Linked DNA regions of Homo sapiens: all the other regions are linked to region 1. Evidence: fine-mapped expression QTL. A gene starts in region 1. Each other region holds a variant in brackets. All regions are shown on one strand. Distances are from middle to middle.

Region 1 (5,414 bases):
AAGGACTTCATGTCTAAAACACCAAAAGCAACGGCAACAAAAGCCAAAATTGACAAATGGGATCTAATTAAACTAAAGAGCTTCTGCACAGCAAAAGAAACTACCATCAGAGTGAACAGGCAACCTACAAAATGGGAGAAAATTTTCACAATCTACTCATCTGAAAAAGGGCTAATATCCAGAATCTACAATGAATTCAAACAAATTTACAAGAAAAAAACAACCCCATCAAAAAGTGGGCGAAGGACATGAACAGACACTTCTCAAAAGAAGACATTTATGCAGCCAAAAAACACATGAAAAAATGCTCACCATCACTGGCCATCAGAGAAGTGCAAATCAAAACCACAATGAGATATCATCTCACACCAGTTAGAATGGCAATCATTAAAAAGTCAGGACACAACAGGTGCTGGAGAGGATGTGGAGAAATAGGAACACTTTTACACTGTTGGTGGGACTGTAAACTAGTTCAACCATTGTGGAAGTCAGTGTGGCGATTCCTCAGGGATCTAGAACTAGAAATACCATTTGACCCAGCCATCCCATTACTGGGTATATACCCAAAGGACTATAAATCATGCTGCTATAAAGACACATGCACACATATGTTCATTGCAGCATTATTCACAATAGCAAAGACTTGGAACCAAGCCAAATGTCCAACAATGATAGACTGGATTAAGAAAATGTGGCACATATACACCATGGAATACTATGCAGCCATAAAAAATGATGAGTTCATGTCCTTTGTAGGGACATGGATGAAATTGGAAATCCATTCTCAGTAAACTATCGCAAGAACAAAAAACCAAACACTGCATATTCTCACTCATAGGTGGGAATTGAACAATGAGAACACATGGACACAGGAAGGGGAACATCACACTCTGGGGACTGTTGTGGGGTGGGGGGAAGGGGGAGGGATGGCATTGGGAGATATACCTAATGCTAGATGATGGGTTAGTGGGTGCAGCGCACCAGCATGGCACATATATACATATGTAACTAACCTGCACATTGTGCACATGTACCCTAAAACTTAAGGTATAATAATAATAATTAATAAATAAATAAATCTAAGACCTGAGACCATAAAAAAAAATGTCTTCCAAATTATATCCTGTAACTAATTTAAGTGGAGGTGGGGGGAAGACGCACAAGTGCAGCAGGCCTCTTAATTTCCTTAAAACAGATTGAAACAATCTCTGAGGGGAAAAAAGAAGAAATAGAAGCTCATAATACTGAAACCAGCAGTTGATATTTCACAGTAGTTGGCAAATCTTCCTTCAGACTTGGGTCCACAAGATTGCCTGATTAAGCAAAGCCCTTCTGGAGTCAGATCTGGTGTAAACCTGAATCTGCCTGTCACTAGTTGTACAATCTTGGTTGGACGCGTCCCTTCACTTCTCTGAGCCTGACTTTCGTCATCTGTAAAATGGGAATGCTATGATCTCATAGGGTGGTTGTGACAAGAAAAGGAAGCATTGTTTTTAAGTCCTTACGTGCTTTTAATCCAGCCCTTTAAAAAGGCACTTAAATGTACCTTTTATTGTTTGGTTGGCTTGTTTTCCAGGAAATTAGTTCTTAAATATCATTATCTATAATTAACATAAACTCTAATCTAATATTCAGACAGACGGATGTCGATGCCATGGGTGGTTCTCCTTTAAAACCAAAAGCCTGGCGACCCCGCCCCAGCTCCCCTCAATTTTACCCCAGACCCACCTTAGGTTCCTCCACTACCGTTCGGCTGACTTCCCTCCCTTCACACTTAACACCACAGGTTGCCTTCCCCAGCACCTGCTAATTTTTCTTTCCTCTTCCCTTCCTGGCCTCCGCCTCGGCCCGCCACCTCCCTGGCTCTTTGAGTCCCTTCGTGGACGTCCCCGCCGCGCCCCAGGGGATGTGCGTGTAGTGGGGGAGAGTGGGTCATAGGGTCTGGTCTCACCATCTCTATTTTCAAAGCCCCTAGGGGACTGGAGAGGGGGTGACATTGCCCCCCAGAACGCCGAGCGCGCGAGGCGCGTACTCACCAGCCGCCGCGGTCGCTTCTTTCCAATGCGCGGAACTCGGCGCTCGCGGCACCTGGCACTCGTGGGAAGTTGCGGGGAAGGGGGACCTGGAGGAAGAGGGGCGATGCCGAGCTCTTCCTGAGGCGCCTGCGCAGTGGCAGGCGCCGCGCCGCGGGGCACAGCCCCAACGTCCCTATCTGCGCCGCTCGGGGCGCTCCGAGTGTGCGCAGCTGCCAGGCGAGCGTCTAAGGCGCCAGCTCAGGGCTGGCTGGGACCGGGCAGCAGAGTCTGAAACACGTCCTTGGATTGGATGCTAGAACCAGCGTTGAATGTAACTTTCTTTCCGATTGGTTAGACAGGTGCTTGGAGGGGTTGTATCGGACCTAAGAGTAGAGGTTGATTCCACTCTCCCACCACGCACTTTTCGTATCATCCTAGATCTGGATGCCCTTCATGGAACCTAAAAACCAGCGAGTCCCGGAAAGGCCTCAGGCAATTGCCAAGCCGATGGCCTTCTGCCACTTAGTTAATGTGCACCTGGCAGCTTAGGTGGCCGCGGAGAAAGCAACTTTGGCTGCACCAAGGTCCGGCACAAGTCTGGAGAAGCTTCAGCCAGTTCCAGTGAGTTGGGATAAATGAAACGTGGATCTACCATAGACGTCTGTCCGTCTTACTGGATAAGCGAGCACCTTTACCGGGGAAGTTAGGTAATAGTTTACAAGTAAGGTTAAAAGCAGCACAGTGCCTGCGGCAGGGAACCAGTAATGAGTTACAGCTGAGAAATGGGTGCTTACTTTGACAGACGCGTATGTGGGATTGTGCTCCTGCTTTTAATTGGAAGGTTATTTAATAGAATAATGTAACTAAACTTTCCAACATAAAGAGCAGTTACCAAACAGAAGTAGAATTATTCGCTAACAGTTGGGTTGTCCAGGCACACTTGGCAGTGAGAGGATAGCATCTTTTTTCTTTTTATCTGTAGTGCCAAACAGAACTTGGTATAGAAGTACTTGCTAAATCACTATTGAATTTAATTGTCCCGCTTGTTAAAATGCAGGCTCCAGAAGGTATTTTCTTTCTTGTTCACTACTGTATCTCCAGCTCAAATAAAAAGTACAAATAAATTAAGAATATTAATCACATGTGATATCCTCAAGTGTTAAGTATTTAATAGCTGTAAATCCAGTACCTGGATTAGTAAACTGCAGTACTGGACCTTAGATAACAAATTCTGACGTTGGTCCCCTTGGTCTGAACCTTACAGTATAGCTATTACCAACAATCTGGAAGCAGCCATGGAGATGATTTGGCAATAGATGTATTCCGTTGATTATTAGTTTGTGCCTTGATAAATTAATTCCAGTTTTAAGTCTCAGGTTGGCCTGTGCATTGGTGAATATGGGCATCTTAGATCCATGGGCTTTCAGAGCTGGAGGGGATGGTAGTGGGTCTGTAGCTGAATCCCTAGAACCTGCAGACCCTAGAACCTGGTTTGAATACTCACTCTGTCACTCACCAGCAGAGCAATCATGGGCCAGTGTCTCAACCTATTTGAGCTTTCATTTCCTCATCTGCAAAACGCGTCTTGTTACAATACCAACCTCTTACTATCAAATGAATGAGGAAAGCGAGTAGAGTATTCAGCACAGTATCTGACACATGTTGTTTTGGGGATTATTATCATTATGACCAAAAAAGTACCCCAATTTGAACAATAGTCAGGGTAAGGCCAAGTTTTGGGGGAATTTAGGTAATGTCCAATGACATAACATTTAAGATTAGCAGAACTTAAATTTTGTGGCATTTGGGGGTATTGTGCATATCCTGTTTGTTCATTCAGTAGGTGCATATGTATGCTTAAAGGGTGGACAAAACTGAATGCCATCTAGGTCAGATGTGTGGTGAAGATAGCAGCTGGATGGGCATCAGGAGAGGACTCTCTTTATCCACTGCTACTGCCTGTGTGGCTGGGTTAAATTAGGGAGTCTCATGCCACCTGGGCTCTTGCTCTGTAAGATAAAGTGGTCAGGAACAGAGGGACAAAATGACACATAAGGACCTTTGGCCCTAAACTTTTGTTATCCTCTATATATTTACCATTTCAACCACAACCAAAATCCTGTTATAGTAAGGATATTTATCGTCTTGTGGAACAAGAAGTCCAGAGGTAAGGCAGACTTCAGGACTGGTTGAGTTAGCAACTCAACGATTTCATAATGTACTCAGTTCTTTGCAGCTTTACACTTGGCTTTTAACAGAGTAGACTTCTGGTTCCTTTAGTGGTAAATATAACTACCAGCAGCAACAGGAACCATGTAATTCATTTTTCACTTCCACTGGGTGATAGAAATGACGTCTAGATTTCTTCTGTCTCTTAGAAGTCTTCAGCAACTGTCTCCTTTAATCACTTTGGACAGAATTGTGTCACATATCCAAATCTAAGCCAGCAAAGGATATGGTTACCTGTAGACCAATGCAGTCCACATCTTAAACTGAGGTCTCACCCAAACTTTACTTTTTTTCTCAATGGAAATGAGTTGGAATGGGTGCTGGGAAGCCGGCCACAAAGTTCACTATAGTTTCATTGTAGAACTTTAATGATAATAAAAGAAAACATAATAGTAACATAAATTTCTTATTTACAATGTGATTTTTAGGCATAAGTGTTGTTTTATTTAGGTAGGCAAAATAATATTCATTTATAATGTTCTTTCAGCTCAGCTTTTGCAAAGGGAATTTTATATAAATTTTGGAAATATAGAGAGCCTTTAAACCCATTTTATGTTAGAGATTGAAATGAATTAGAGGCAATAGTCTAAACTTATTATTTACAAATGAATATACCCCACAGAGAAATGACTGAGCAAACATACAGTTAGATAGAAGAAATATATTCTAATGTTTGATAGGAGAGTAGGGTGACTATAGTTAAATGTATTTTATATTTCAAAATAGCTAGAAGACAGGACTTGAAATGTTCCCATCACATAGAAATGATAAATACTCGAGGTAATGGATACCCTAAATACCCTGACTGGATTGTTACACGTTCAATGCATGTAACAAAATATCACATCTGCCCTATAAATGTATAGAAATATTATTTATCAATACACAAAAACTAAGTACAACTAGAGCATTTGCCTCTATGGGGCAATGTCAGATTTGGAAGCAGCATGTCAAAGGCAGTTTCTTTTTCTCCCATGAACTACGCTCAAGACTGAACATTTATTCATTAACACAAAATATTTTAAAAATCTTATCCTGTTTTCAAAATTTAAGACATAGCTCTCTATACAATTATTTCTCTTTTATACTCCTAATTGTGATGTATAACTCATTGCTGGCCAGGAGAAGGTCAGAAGTTAGAAGTTACAGGAAGAAGGTTTCAGAGCAAAA
Region 2 (5,414 bases), 20 kb before region 1:
AATACCAAATATGGCTTAAACAATAGACGTTTATTTCGCACAGTTCCAGGAGACTGGACAGTCCAAGATTAAGATTCCAGCAGATTTGTTTCCTGGTGAGGGCTCTCTTCCTGGGTTGCAGACAGCTGCCTTCTCATTGTACTTTTACATGGCCCCATGGGCATCAACTCCCTATATTTCTTGAAAAGTGCATGCCCAAGTGCCAAGTATGATCTTAGAGGCACTCACCACTTTAGTGTTCAGGCCAGTCATGTCTGGGCCAAGAAGAAAGAGGCTAAGCATTGTCAGGTTGCATCTGTGGGAAGCTAGCCAAAGCCAAAATAAAACTGGAGTAAGAGTATATTGACTGCGTTTGAGGGTATACAAGAGAAGTCTAATACACCCACAGATGTATGGATTCTTGATTTTAACAAAGGTGATTAATTCTGTTTATCTATTTTTTAATCCTTGGGTCAATACTATACTCTCTTATTATATTTTTAGAATTATTCCTGACACCTGATAGAGTATGTCCTACCATTTTATTTTTTTCAAAATTGTCTTGGCTCTTCGCATTTCTACACAAATTTTACAGTCAGCTTCTGCAGTTCCATAAAAAAACAAATAAAACCCTGCTGAAATTACTTGGATGCAATTATCAGTTTGGGAAGAATTGCCATCTTTATAATATTTAACCTTCCAACCTACAAACATGATATAGCCCTCTATTTATTTTGGTCTCCCTTAACTCCTTTATAATTTTCTGTGCAAAGATTCTGCATGTATTTTGTTAGACTTATTCCCAAATATTCCATGCTTATTGATAGCAATGTAAATAATATGAGTTTAAAATTTTCCTTTTCTAATTGTTTTCTGCTGAGATATAGGAATACACTTGATTTTTGTATATTGACCTGATATCTAGCCATTTTTTAAACTCAGAGTTTATCTGTAGATTGTTGGATTTCTTATGTATACTATCATGCATTTGTGAATATGAGTTTTATTTTCCAATACTTACTTCTTTTGCTTTCCTTATTGCACTTGCTAGGACCTGCAGTACAATGTTAAATATAAGTGGTGAGAGTGGACATCCTTGCCCTGTTCCTGATCCCAGGAGAGGAACATTTGCTATTTCATCATTCAGTATATTAGCTTTGGCTTTGTTTTTGTTTTTTTTTAATAGATGGCATTCATCAGCTGGTGGAAGTTTCCTTCTATTCCAAATTTAATCAGTTTGTTCAACTAATAAATAGGTGTTGAATTTTGCCAAATACTTTTCCACATTCATTGACTTGATAATGTGTTCCTTTTTTTCTATTAGTATACAGCATAACATTGATTGATTTTCAATGATCAAAACAATTCTGTGCCCTGTAGTAAACTCCACTTATTCATGTGCATTATCCTTTTGAATTACCACTGAATTCAATTAGATAATATTTAGTTAAGTATTTTTGTTCATAAGAATACTGGTCTTTTAATATATTTTTTCACGTTTTTGTACCAGTGTTATACTGGCCTTATAAAAAGAATATGTTGGCTGGGCGAGGTGGCTCACACCTGTAATCCCAGCACTTTGGCAGGCCGAGGTGGGCAGATCACGACGTCAGGAGATGGAGACCATCCTGGCCAACATGGTGAAACCCCGTCTCCACTAAAAATACAAAAATTAGCTGGGCGTGGTGGCACGTGCCTGTAGTTCCAGCTACTCAGGAGGCTGAAGCAGGAGAATTGCTTGAAACGGGAAGGCGGAGGTAGCAGTGAGCCGAGATCGCACCAATGCACTCTAGCCTGGTGACAGAGAGAGACTCTGTCAAATAAATAAATAAATAAATAAATAAATAAATAAATAAACAAACAAACAAATAAATAAAACGTGTTCCTTCGTCTTCTATTTTCCATAAGAATTTATGTAAAACTGGTATCATTTCTTCATCAAATGTGTGATGAACTAATCAGTGAAACACCTGGACTTGAAGTTTTCTTTATAAGGATTTTTTTATAAATTAATGTCTGATAGATATAAAGCTATTCACATTTTTTATTTGTTTGGTAAGTTGCATTTTTCGGTGAATTTATCCATTATTATGTAAATTGTCAAATCCATTGGCATAATATTCTGTATTATCTTTTTGACATATGTAGGATCTGCAGTGATGGCGCTTCTGTTATTACTGATATTGCCAGTTTCTGCTATCTCCCTTTTTTCTT[A/TA]GGTCATCTTACCAATTTTACTAGTATGTTTTTAAAAAATAAATTTTCACTTTATTATTTTTTCTCTTCACGATTTCATTAATTTGGATCTTATTTTTATTATATCCTTCCTCCCACTGACTTTGGATTATTTCCTCCTTTTACTGTTTTCCTAAAGCGAAGGCTGTAATCATTGATTCTGAACCCTTCAGCCTCTCTTAAGATAGGCATTCAAAGCTGCAAATTTTCCTCTAATGCTTTAGTTGCATACTATAGATTTTAGTGCTACATATTTATGATCATTCATTTCCAAATATTTTATTTGCCTTATTTTTATTTTTCTCATAAGTTATTTAGAAGTGTATTGTATTGTTTAATTTCCAAATATTTAAGGATTTTCTGAATTGTATTGTTATTGACCCTCGTTCCATTGTGGTCAGAAAACATACTTTGTAAAATTGCAGTTCTTTGAGATTATTTACTGAGACTTGTTTTCTGGTCCTGTGTATGGCCAAACTTGGTAATTCTTCAATGTATACTTATAAAAATAATATATTTTGCAGTTTGGAGCTGTAATCTCCTCTAAATCTCATTTAAGTCAAGGTGGTTAATAAAATCACTCAAGTCTTCTGTATCTTTATTGTCTTTTTTTCTTGGTGTGGTTGGTGTATCAACGACTTAGAGAGGAGTGCTAAATTCTTCAATTATGTTTACGAATTCTCTTTAGTTCCATCAGTTTTTGATTAATGTGTTTTTAAGCTGTTTTTAGGTATGAACACTTTTAGAATTGTCATGCTTTCCTTACATATTGGTCCTTGTACATTAATGAAATCTCTCTGTTCCTGAAAATTATTGTCTTGAAGACTACTTTTTCTGATATCAATATGTATATATTTATTATGGTTAGTTTCTGATATGGTTTTGCTGTGTCTGCACCCAAATCTCATCTTGAATTGTAGTTCCCACAATTCCCACATGTTGTGGAAGGGATCTGGTGGGAGGTAATTGAATCATGGGGGCAGTTACCTCCATGCTGTTCTCGTGATAGTGAGTTCTCATCAGATCTGATGGTTTTATAAGGGTTTTTCGCTGCTTTGCTCTGCACTTCTCCTTACTGCCACCATGTGAAGAGGACATATTTGCTTCCCCTTCCGCCATGATTGTAAGTTTCCTGAGGCCTCCTCAGCCTTGTGGAACTGTGAGTCAATTAAACCTCTTTCTTGTATAAATTACCCAGTCCCAGGTATGTCTTTATTAGCAGAGTGATAATGGACTAATACAGTTTCCATGGCATGTTATTTTCTATCCTTTTTTAAAATTCAATTTGTGTCTTTGTATTTAAAGTGATTCTCTTGTAGACTACATGTAGTTGGATATTGCTTTTTCATCTACTTTGATAATCTCTGCCTTTTCACTGGAATGTTCAGTCTATTTACATCTAATTACAGATGTGGTTTAATTTTCATTTTTGAAAAATGTTTCTTTCATTCAAGATTGGTCCATAGTTTTTTTGTGTGCTATTTTTTCAAGTTCAGTATCAGTTTTATTCACCTTAAAAATAATATACTTCATTTTCTAAAATGTTAGTTTTTTGAGGCAAATATAAACTGATATCCAAGCCTGACAGAGTCACTAAAAAAAAAGGATTATTGTCTTTGAGGCCTGATACTTTTTTATACACTATAACTGCCTCAACCTTTTCCTAAATACAGAAACTGGTATGTTTTTGTTTTCTCTTTCTTTACTGGAGTCAGTTTTATCCAATAATTTTTTTCCTAGGAAATTATTCATTTATATTTTCAAATTTGTGCCAAATAGTGCAGATGCATGATTTTAATAGATATATTTACATCTGTGCCTTCTCTCCTTCAATCACCCGCTCCTAGTCTCTTCTGATTAGGTTAGCTTCTCAGCCTTTCAGCTGCCTCTTCCACAATTCATAGATGCCATTAGGGACTCATGTTTATTGGGTTTTTTTTTTCCTTCTAAATCCTAGCCTCTTCATTCTTCACTTTCTGGAAATTCCTCAATGCATAAGCACAAATCTTTTATTTGTCCAGATTTTCTAGTCCTCAGTAAGAGCACTGGTTTGAATTACACAGTCTACCATTACTGGATACAGAACCCAACATGTCTTTTTAAGATTACAAAAAAAGGGGGAGTGAGGGAGAATCTTCACAGAAATTTCGAGTGTAAAAAACATATTCACTCTCCTCAGTGGATATTTCAAACATTTTGTAAATCAATAGTACTCTGTCTAACCTATAGAAGCCCCTTTATAAAATGGTTATTTATATAGTGAAATTTTCTAGATTTGTTTTGGGGTTAATTTCTATTGCTCCTTTCCACCACTCGCCTACGAAAGTGAGATTGAGCATGGTTGATATGAATGTAATGCTGATTAAATTAATAGCAATTTGTATCTTTAACAGAAGAGGAAGGTCTAGACTGGAGACACATGTCTGTAAATCATCATCATGGAGCTGTCAGTGGAAGAGCTCACCAGGTTGTGTATTGACGGTGGAAATGAGATTTCAGAGGTCAAAAGGATAAAAAAAAGATACGTGGACACAGAAAGCCTGCATAGCAGTTTGGCTTACTCTTTAGGTATAGACTCTGCATTTACCTCCCAGGTAATTTTGACCATGGGACAGGAGTCAGAGGATCTAGTCATTTCAACATATACACATAGTTATTACATAAGAATATAGAACTATACACACATGTGCCTGTACATATATATATTAGTATATACATACATATATGTATAGTATACACACACACATACATATATATATACACTTACACATATACTTACATACACACATACACATATATGTTGTGATCAGCATGTCTGTTACAGGACTCCAGAGCCCAGATGGATCATTTAGATTCTCACATATTCTTTCAAGCAATGGTTGTGAATGTGTGTGTGAGTACACTAGTGGAGGATGGGGTGAGAAGGATGTAATAATAACCAAACATAGGCACTAAGGAGGCTGGGAGTTGGGGGAAGAGGCAAAATTAGCATCTGAACCTCAGGAAGCACAAGGTCTGGAAAATGATTCTAGATACAAGGCTCTCAGCAGCAAGAGTTAACCCATGAGTACACATAGGTAATTTGTTGGTATAAATAAAGTTTTACCACTTTTGAAATAATTCTCTTTCAGAGTAAAAAATGTTCCATTTATTCTTTTGTTTTCCTACAATTCTTAGCAGAGTTCTTTTAATACAAAAATAGG
Region 3 (5,414 bases), 54 kb before region 1:
TCACTATGTTGTCCAGGCTGGGCTTCAATTCCTGGGCTCAAGTAATCCTCTCACCTCAGCCTCCCAAGTAGCTGGGACTACAGGTGCATGACACCACACTTAGTGGTGAATTTACTTATTATTTATTGCACTAGGTAATTTTCTGATGTCATTCATGTACTCATATTTATTGAGTTCCTACAATATGCCAAGCACTGAGACGTTTCTTAGGGTGAAATAAAGTGGTTACCAATAGAGTTACCAAATCCAGCACCTTATTTCAAACAGATAATAAACTCGTTTAAATGTCTTTTTAAAAAATCTCTTTTATAGTAAATATGTGCTCTTGTTACTTTATAACTCAACAGCTTTCTTTGGTTCCTTTTTGTCTCCAGAACAAGATACAAATTAGTCAGCCTGAGTGGCTATTAGAGCATTCCACAATTGTCTTTTTAATCTCTCCTCTCACTGCTTCTCCACCTGGACTTGATACAGGATGAACTGGGCTATTCATTATTATCCAAACATAAGTTGTTCTTTCCAAAATTCATTCTGTCAAACATGTCAACCTCTCATCCTGGAAACATTTCAGATATTTTTACTAAGAATAAAAAGAGTTGGTAGAAAAGCTGTTGGGAAGGCATAGCTTCCACCTGAGGCAAACCATTCATATATACACCTTATTTAACATAGTGACAGTTTCATCCTCGCATATTAAACAACAGTTATCTCAGAACATTGAACAAGGCTAATGTGCCAAGCTTGGTGCTATGAATGAAGCATAGTCCTTGTCCTCAGAAGATACCAAAGTTTAAAACCTAACACGGTAATTTAACTCTGGATCTCTCCATCCTCCTGTCCTCCACATTCCCTCATTCACTCATCCATTCATTTAGTAAACTTCACTGGGAAGCTGTGGGGCATGCACAGTTCATCAGGCTCAGTCTCAGTTCTTTGGCATATTAACCAACAATTACAGAACAAGTGCAAGGATGGAAGAGTGCAGAGCACTCTGGGAGTGTGGAGGAGTGGCACATAATCAGGCAGAGCTGAGGGAGGAAGGGGCTTCCTGGAGGAAGGGACTCCTGAGTTTGGTCCTTAAAACTTTGAAGGAAATAGTCAGGCAAAGCATCACAAGGAAGTATCCAGACTAAATTTCTCTCCTATGTTACTTCATCTATAGCTGCGAATATGATTGCTTTTCTGGAAGCACCATGCTTGCTCAGGAATGAGGGGAAATGTCATAGAAGGAATTAAGGCTATATTTCCTGATTTTCTTTTCACTGGACTACATGGCTTAACAACAGAGAATAATGTATCTTGCCCTATTGTATTTTTAGTCTTTTGCTGTAAGTAGTAAGTCCAAGTAAAATATGTAGCAATGGGACTATAGGATTCCTAAATTCATCCCCAGGATATTGCTAAATTGAGAACTAGTCATTTCAAGCAACAAGAAAACACTGTAAATAGACAGATAAAATGCAAGCTAATAAATTTCTTTAAAATTTTTCTTTGTGCTATTAACATCATATGATGTATTGTATATGATTGGAGACAGGCTATAGTTAAAAGTGTGGACTTTACAAAAAAGAAATTCCTAGGTTCAAACCACAGCTCTGACAGCTCTTAGCTATGTAAACTAGGCAAGTTATAATGGCTGAATAGTAGCCATCATATAAAAATACCAAATGCTCTTAATCATTTCTTTTTTTGAGACACTTAGGTTGTTTCTTAATGGGGAGTATTAGTAATAAGACAATAATCAATATTGTGATACTAAAATCTTTGTTCCCCTCTCTGACAGAATAAATTTTTTTAAATGGAATTTCTAGGTTAGAATTTATATCTATTACTAGTTTAATATCTCTAGGGCAGTTTCTTCATACATAAAATGAGATGGATGATGGTACCCACTTCGCTGGATCATTGTAAGAAGTAGATAAATTAATAGGAGGAAAACTGCTTAAGCAAGTGTTTGAAACAGCTTTTCTGTCCATTTTAAATCAATGAGTAGTAGCTTCCTCCAGGGGGATTTTGCCAAGTTCCACAGCAAGTCATGTTTTTCAGGTCCTGGAATACTGCCAGTGTGGAGGAATACGAATGGAATGCAGTCAGAGGATCACATCCAGGTCATTTTCGGGATTCCACATGGCTCCTTGGTGAATTTATACTGTAGTTATACTTTTCTTTATAACAGATATTTGCGAAACCTAAGAGCTAAAGCAGTAGGGAAAATACAACAGCAAATCCACTTACCCCACATCATGTCCCATCAAACACTCACAAGCACTCATCTTTGCCGGTTTCTTTACTTAGTCCTTATCAGATAGTACCCATGGGGTTTCTTCTATCTTATAGAGCCAGTGACTGTACTGAATAACTCACCTCTTTTCATGTGTGAGCATTACTTATGCCCCAATTTCATTTTTATCTTCCTCTAAGAATAGATTCTTTATCTATCTTTCTAACTCTGATGTTATAAGCACTGAAATAATAAATCTAATTTCTCTGGAAAATTATGAACAAATGAATAGGAGACATGAGAATCCTGAAATAAAGTTGGTCCTGCTTATTTTGGGGGATATTTCCTCATAGTTGTATTGGGGAAGATAATTCATCATTTGAGTGCAAACGGTGCTCCCAATAGGGTCATATAGCCATTATCTAAAATGCCACAGGATTTATCTAGCATCACTTGTAAAAACAGAAATCTATATG[T/G]CCAGTTCTAGGGTACAAAACACATCACACTGGATGTTCTATCCAATGATGGTAAGATCCCATAGGGGAAATTAAATGCCATGAAATGGCCTTAATTATGGGAGTTAAGAAAATTGTTTTTCACAAACTACACAGCAGAATAAAAAACATGACATGAGGGGGAGAGAATAGCATCTAAAAGGCATAGGATGAGGTCAGAGTTCCGAATGCACTTTATGGGTATGGTGGTTAATTTTATGTGTCAACTTGACTGGGCTAAGGGATGCCCAGGTAGCTGCTGAAACATTCTTTCTGGGTGTGTCTGTGAGAGTATCTCCAGAAGAGATTAGCATTTTGAATTGTTAGAGTAAGAAAAGAAGATCTGCCCTCACCAATGAGGGCAGGCATCTCCAATCCGATGAGGGCTCAAATAGAACATAAGACAGAGAAATGCCAATTTTCCTCTTTTCAGTCTTTATGAACTGGGACATTCATCTCTTTCTGCCCTTGGACATTGAAGTTCCTGGTTCTCATGCTTTTGTGCCTTTGGATTCCAGGACTTACACCAGTCCCCCATCACACTGCCCACCCCGGTTCAATTACAACAGAATTGCCTTGTGACCAAGTCACTGGGGGTGGAGGAGTATAAAGTCAGTGTTTGTGTTTATGCCATCCTTGCCATATGTGTCTCTTACACAGAGAATTGAGGTGATTATGGAAATATGCCCCCGAAATAACAAGAAAGATCACAGGAAGCTACACAGGCAAGAGTAGAAAATTCAGGAATACTATAAATACCAGGATTCTTCTATACATGTACAGATGGTCCTTGAGTTACTTTTCTTCGATTTTATGATGTTACAGATGTGAAACACATTCAGTATAAACCATACTTCAAGTACCCATACAAACACTCTGTTTTTCACTTTCAGTACAGTATTCAACAAATTGCATGAGATATTCATTATCTTATTACAAAACAGTATTTGAGAGATGATTTTGCCCAACTAATCACTTATATCATAGGCTAATATAAATGTTCTGAGCACATTTAAAGTAGAGTAGGCTAGATGTATTAAATCCATTTTCCTCTTATGATATTTTCAACTTATAACGGGTTTATCAGTATGTAACCCCACTTTAAGTCAAAAAGCATCAGTATAGATTTATATCCTGCTTTTCTCTTCAAATATTTTATCATAGGAATTCCCACATATTAAACAATCTTTGAATATGTGGTTTATAATGGCTGAATAGTAGCCATCATATAAAAATACCAAATAGTATTAGTATTAAGACTATGATAAATATTGTCATACCAAAATCTTTTTGTGCATCTCTGACAGGATAAATTTTTCAAAAATGGAATCGCTAGGTTAGAATGTATTTTATTTAAATTATTTAATTCTAACAACAAACACTATTTCAAAAACTAGATACTGGAAAAAACACAACTGACTCTAGATAAGTCTAAAATTTATCTGGCAGAAGCAGACGTGTTAGACAGAAATAGATTAGCCAAAAAAGTTTACAATGCCATGGGGTAGTAGTTAATATGATTTGCAGAGGAAAAGAAGAGTGTAGGCCATTCTGGTGAGTCAATTAATTGTAAATAGATTTAAAAAGCTTCTGCTGCTTTCAGGTCTATAACTCTATCAAATCATTTAGGCTTTCTAAACCTCAATTTGCTCATTTTGAAAACTGGAGTCATTTCCCATGTTCATGCACCAGAATACTTAATATTGTAAGCTTGAATGTTCTCCCTAAATTGGTATGTAGATCTGCTGTCATCCCAATTACATGCCAGACCAGCATTTTTATAGAAAAATAATAGATAGAAAAAGGATCATAGAAAAGCTGATTTTAACATTTATATGAAAAGGCAAAGGACCTAAAATAGTCAAAACAATCTTGAGAAAGAGCAATGTTGGAGAACTCACACTACCTCACCTCAAGACTTATTACAAAGCTTTGGTAATCAAGACAATGTAGTATTGATAAGAAGACAGACAAACAGGTCAATGAGCTAGAATTGAGAGGCCAGAAATAGATCCATGCTTATAAAGCAAATTGTTTATGATAAAGGAACCAAAGCAATTTAAAAGCAAATAAAATACCTTTTAAAAATTGTACTGGAACAATTGGCTATTAAAAAATTTTTTCTTTAACTTAGACTCCTATTTGCACTTACACTCTATTTCACACCACACACAAGAACTAATTTTAAATGGCGGAAAGATCTGTGGATAGGAGTTTGAGAATCTTGAAAGATAGTCTATAGCAATAAGCATCTGCCCAAGATAGTCTATAGGAATAAGCATCTGCCTTCAGGCATTAGACCCTCACTTATCCTTAACTGGATCAGGATAACTTAGCTTAGGCTAGGACCTGGCCTTCAGCCCTTCCCCACTACTTATTAAAACATTTAAAGAGAAATCTAAATTAAAAATCCAAAATAATAATGCAATTTAAAACTACCTCAAAAAATCCAAAAATCTTTAAGATATACCATTTGAAACAAAAGTGTTAAAAGAGATAGAACAAGAATTTTATGTAAACATGATAAATATACTTAAAGAGATGTAACAAGCTATTAGTAATATGAAGAAGAATAAAAAATCATTAAAAATGAAAATATATGAGGTATAATAGCTGAAAAACTACACCAAAGGTGGGATAAAGAAAGGATAGAAACAGCTAAAGAATAAATTTGTGAATTAGAAAATCAGACAAAGAGG
Region 4 (5,414 bases), 39 kb before region 1:
GCTCCTCTGGGTCCCTAAAGCAACGTCCCCTCCTTGCCACTGCACATCTAAGAAGCCCAGGCCTCGGTGGGCGGGATGACTGGGAATTGGGAACATAACCTACGCCGCGACCATTCTGGGTGGCTAGGATGGAATCCTGGTGGAGAAGATGGACACCCCCGCCCTTGACGTCTACCCGAGCTACACAAACCTACTCCTTCTGCACTTTCCCTCTTCCGTTTAATCGGTGCCCCGTCCTTCCTGCTCTCCAAGTCTGTTTGTGGAGGAAGGGTTGGAGGGGAGAAAGAACTGGAAAGTACTCAATGAAATGTGGAGCCAGATCCAGGGATTCCACTGTTTTGTGCAGCATTTTGTGCACGAAAAAAAAAAAAATTCTGATTGTTTTCATTCCCCACCCCCCACCTCTGTTTATTGCTCTGTGTCATGGATGTGATGTTGAGTCTTCTTGCCAAACATTCCTAAGCTTTAGACAACACTTAATCTTTGCTTACTTTTGTTGGTCCCAAGAAAGCAGTTTTCTCCTGCTTACACATGTGCCGAATTAATTTGCTAAGATAGATGAAAATGAGGTGTTCCATGTAGTTTATTTCCTCTGCTTTTAGCCTTAAATTACATTTGGTTGATACTAGCCTTCCTTGTTTTAAAAAGGTGGGAGAGAAAATTAGGGGGAGAAAGGACAGAGAGAGCAACTACCATCCATAGCCAGATAGGTGAGTAAATATATTTGCAGTAACCTATTTGCTATTCCTTGCTGCAACTGTGTTTAATGTTCCTTCCAGAATCAGAGAGAGTATTGCCATCCAAGAAATCGTTTTTAAATATGACATTTGAGCTATCATCTTGAGACCAATACCTAAAACAATTTCAGTTTAAGAAATGTCTAGGTATGGTGAAAACACAGTTTAAAACCAGCAAAACAGAATTTATTGCCCTCAGCGAATACCCACAATGTACATATACCTTGTATTTCTGAAAGCAAAGCAAGCATGCCAAGTAGTTTTTATTTACCTGTACCTATAATACAGCAAGGTGAAACAGGATATATTTTTGAAGTTTAAAAATGTCTTCAGGCCGGCTGCGGTGGCTCATGCCTGTAATCCCAGCACTTTGGGGAGCCGAGAAGGGTGAATCACCTGAGGTCAGCAGTTTTGAGACCAGGCTGGCCAACATGGCGAAACCCTGTCTCTACTGAAAATACAAAAATTAGCTGGGTGTGGTGGCGGGCGCCTGTAGTCCCAGCTACTTGGGAGACTGAGGCAGGAGAATTGCTTGAACACGGAAGGCGGAAGTTGCAGTAAGCTGAGATCGTGCCACCGCACACCAGCTTGGGCAACAGAGTGAGACTCCCTCTCAAAAAAAAAAAAAAAAGAAGTCTTCAGCTTAGGAAGATATCAAAAGGCAGTTTCAAGAGATTTATTTGTACAAGTGTGGTTTGATCTAAGTTTTGGTGGGTTTATAAATACCTTCATGCAGGAATGGGTAGAAAAATGAGAGAACAAAAGATCCCTGCTGGATGTGCACGCCTGATGAAAACTGACAAAATTTACATATCTATTGTTTATCCATACAGCGTCTTATTAGCTTTCTTCAATAGAATGAAAGTATTTTAGAAATATACACAGATTAGGGGAAAAGACCAGCAACCTTGATTCACAGAGCTTTAAACCAGGGAAGTGCTTTTACTACACCTATCAATGATAAGATTAAATTTTGACAAATTTTAACATTAGGAAAGTCAACAACAAATTTCAGAATTATATTTCTGTTAATATTTAGTTTAGAATCTAATTATTTAGTTCAACGAATGCTGTGATTTGATTATTAATAAATGAATGCAGATTACTTTTCAATAAATATATCTGGATGTCACAAATGTTATTTCACTTCAAGAAACCAAATTCATCTATTTTCCTCTCTCTTTAGTAATACATCTTTTGTCTGTGATTAACCAAACATAGGGGTTGAAAATAGAAGTGTGCATATACATATATATATAATATATATGTATATGCACCATTATTCGATTTGCTAATGATACTTCATTGTTGCTAGGTTGCCATAGTTGCTCTAGCCATAATGTTAAGGATGTTCACAGGTATTTGACTATAAAAAAGTTTCTGACCAGAAGTCAAAAGTCTGGATCAACCTGAAAATGTTTCTAAAAGTTTTATGTAAATGATGTCATATTTTAAAATGCTGTTGAAGAGCTCACTTAAATAATTCCTTTGAGGGATATTTAGATAAATTCTCAGAAGTGAAAAAGTTGTTTAAATGCAGCTAAACTTATTAGCTTTATTATTCATTTAGCCCCAGGTCTCTTATCTAATACGGAGTTCTGTGACATAATTCTTCCAGGCTGTGATTTATGAATATAACTAGGATTGCTAAGCACTGTTACTCTGAGTTTGGGGTAAAGTATACAAAACAAAATTATTGCCTTTAATTTCTATATGTTTATTCTACAGATTATCTTACACTGAACTGATCAAGTACTTTGAAAATGACTTCGAAATTTCTCTTGGTGTCCTTCATACTTGCTGCACTGAGTCTTTCAACCACCTTTTCTCTCCAACCAGACCAGCAAAAGGTTCTACTAGTTTCTTTTGATGGATTCCGTTGGGATTACTTATATAAAGTTCCAACGCCCCATTTTCATTATATTATGAAATATGGTGTTCACGTGAAGCAAGTTACTAATGTTTTTATTACAAAAACCTACCCTAACCATTATACTTTGGTAACTGGCCTCTTTGCAGAGAATCATGGGATTGTTGCAAATGATATGTTTGATCCTATTCGGAACAAATCTTTCTCCTTGGATCACATGAATATTTATGATTCCAAGTTTTGGGAAGAAGCGACACCAATATGGATCACAAACCAGAGGGCAGGACATACTAGTGGTGCAGCCATGTGGCCCGGAACAGATGTAAAAATACATAAGCGCTTTCCTACTCATTACATGCCTTACAATGAGTCAGTTTCATTTGAAGATAGAGTTGCCAAAATTATTGAATGGTTTACGTCAAAAGAGCCCATAAATCTTGGTCTTCTCTATTGGGAAGACCCTGATGACATGGGCCACCATTTGGGACCTGACAGTCCGCTCATGGGGCCTGTCATTTCAGATATTGACAAGAAGTTAGGATATCTCATACAAATGCTGAAAAAGGCAAAGTTGTGGAACACTCTGAACCTAATCATCACAAGTGATCA[T/C]GGAATGACGCAGTGCTCTGAGGAAAGGTTAATAGAACTTGACCAGTACCTGGATAAAGACCACTATACCCTGATTGATCAATCTCCAGTAGCAGCCATCTTGCCAAAAGAAGGTAAGGCTGACTGAATGAATGGTGAGCTGAGACTAGATGTGCATTTGCCCAGTGTGATCAAATGAACAGGGATTTCTGTTGCTGCGCCTTTAAAGTAGACTTTGCCTGTGTCATGGTAATATTCTGGGATTTAATCCTCAGACTCTGAAAAGACAAAATCTCTTTTTTCAAAGCCTAATTTTTTTTTCCTTTTTCCTAGAATACTGAAATTGATGTGCTCTATGTATGTATGGCAGTAGGTTTTAACCATTTTGGATCCATAGAATATTATGAAAGCTATAGCCTCCCTTCTCAGAAAAATTGAGATGGAAAGATACATACAAAACTTGAATGCATGTACAGTTATTTCATAGAAGCCCCAAAGCCTTTTATAGGTTCCTAATTTGGACCTGCTTAACAAGGAAGCTGTGGAAGATAAGAAGGAGAAAGAGCTTTGGTCAATCTGAGGTTTATTTTCCTTATAAATGTGGAAAGTAATAACAATACCTTAAACTTTTTACAAACCTCTCCTGGAATCCTTATACCAAACCTGTCACCTCAGTATTGTCTCCATTTTAAAGAGAAGTAAATGACAGGTAAGTGACCTCAAAAGGTTTAACATCCTGAGGTCACAAAATAAGTGACAACATGACTCAGACATGCTCTTTGACATATTTTATCACTTTGCAGGGTTGGTCTTAGGTATCAAATGAGAGAACAGATTTTGAAAAGCTATAATATTTCACAAATGAGAATTCCATCCCTCAGAGGGGAATTAGAATCATATGAAACAGCGAATGTTAAAATATGTGTGTGTTTTACACACACAGTTTTCAGCAAACAGCACTTTTTTTCTGGTTTAAGAAAATTAGCTAGGAGTGGTTGCTCACGCCTATAATCTCAGCACTTTGGGAGGCTGAGGCAGCAGGGTCACTTGAGGCCAGGAGTTTGAGGCCAGCCTGGGCAACATAGCAAGACTCTGTTGCTAAAAAAAAAAAAAAAAAAAATAGCCTGGTGTGGTGACACATGCCTGTGTCCCAGGCTGAGGTGGAAGGGTTGCTTGAGCCCAGGAGTTCTAGGTTACAGTGAGCTATGATCATATCACTGCACTCCTCCTTGGGCGACAGGGAGACACAGTCGAAAGAAAAAAAAGAAAGAAAAAGAGAGACTGAGGGGGAAAGAGAGAGAGAGAGGGAGGGAAGAGAAGGGGGTGAAAGAGAGAGAGAGGAGGGAGGGAAGGAGGAAGGGAAGAGGGAAGGGAAGAGGAAATGGAAGGGGAGAAAATTACATTAACCCTTCGATTTCCTTTATAAAATTGGAATGATGTCCTCTTGTTGCGGTGCAGAAGATAAGGATGCAACCTCAGCAATGGATTTGAAAAACAGGAGGATGAAAGACAGTGCCTGGGTAACCGCATTTGTAGTTATAGGGAGTACTTTGGCAACACCTCCAGTGTTTTCAGATGTTTCCATTTTACAAACTGCTTTCCACCTCCAGCCTCTTTTCCCAGCCCTCACCCACCCCTCACCATGTTTTCTTGTCTGGAGATTCTTCGTGTCTGCACTCACAACTACCAGAACCTAGCCATTTTTATTTGGGTATTGCAGTACCCTAGACATTTTACATAGTGTCACTAATTAATATGTGTGTGTATTGAAGTCTTTAGAGGTTTCTGGTTCTATAAAATGCCCTTCCTTAATTCTATAAGGTGAACTTACAACAGAAGATTATTTCCTAGTTTCCCCTCCCAAAATTGTTTTCCCCAAGGGGAAAAAGAATTTTTTCTTATGTTCAGCTCTCTGGTTTTTCACCTCCGTAGCAAGTCTGTTGCCCATGGCTGATGGTAGCTATGAGTATTTTGTTCTGAGTGCCTCTCCTCCCTTCTCTTTAGGTAAATTTGATGAAGTCTATGAAGCACTAACTCACGCTCATCCTAATCTTACTGTTTACAAAAAAGAAGACGTTCCAGAAAGGTGGCATTACAAATACAACAGTCGAATTCAACCAATCATAGCAGTGGCTGATGAAGGGTGGCACATTTTACAGAATAAGTCAGATGACTTTCTGTGTGAGTATGTTACAGTATTTCTTTCCATTCTGCATTAC

Direction of the effects. Alleles are on the strand shown, and positions count from the first base shown. SD is a standard deviation of normalised expression in the study named. Not every link is listed here.
With allele A in place of TA in region 2, the expression in macrophages of the gene that starts at base 2,237 in region 1 is higher (large effect, 0.91 SD a copy in Nedelec 2016).

The links. PIP is the estimated chance that this variant, and not a neighbour inherited with it, causes the effect.
Region 2: its variant is the best candidate, but not a certain one, in a credible set for the expression of ENPP4 in macrophages (Nedelec 2016, PIP 0.58).
Region 3: its variant is the best candidate, but not a certain one, in a credible set for the expression of ENPP4 in tibial artery (GTEx, PIP 0.66).
Region 4: its variant is the best candidate, but not a certain one, in a credible set for the expression of ENPP4 in spleen (GTEx, PIP 0.80).

The regions. Positions count from the first base shown.
Region 1 is chr6:46,126,812-46,132,225 of GRCh38, reverse strand. It overlaps ENPP4 (ectonucleotide pyrophosphatase/phosphodiesterase 4), which reads right to left and starts at 2,237. Exons shown (of 4, transcript NM_014936.5): 1 at 2,037-2,237. It also overlaps a transcript of CLIC5 not described here.
Region 2 is chr6:46,147,095-46,152,508 of GRCh38, reverse strand. No RefSeq gene overlaps it. Among named protein-coding and RNA genes, the nearest start is that of ENPP4, 20 kb to the right of the region's middle. The variant A/TA (reference allele first, on the strand shown) is at 2,194.
Region 3 is chr6:46,180,933-46,186,346 of GRCh38, reverse strand. No RefSeq gene overlaps it. Among named protein-coding and RNA genes, the nearest start is that of ENPP5, 13 kb to the right of the region's middle. The variant T/G (reference allele first, on the strand shown) is at 2,698.
Region 4 is chr6:46,165,349-46,170,762 of GRCh38, reverse strand. ENPP5 (ectonucleotide pyrophosphatase/phosphodiesterase family member 5) reads left to right here. Exons shown (of 5, transcript NM_001290072.2): 2 at 649-710; 3 at 2,466-3,329; 4 at 5,200-5,376. The coding sequence starts at 2,501. Among named protein-coding and RNA genes, the nearest start is that of ENPP5, 2.9 kb to the left of the region's middle. The variant T/C (reference allele first, on the strand shown) is at 3,217.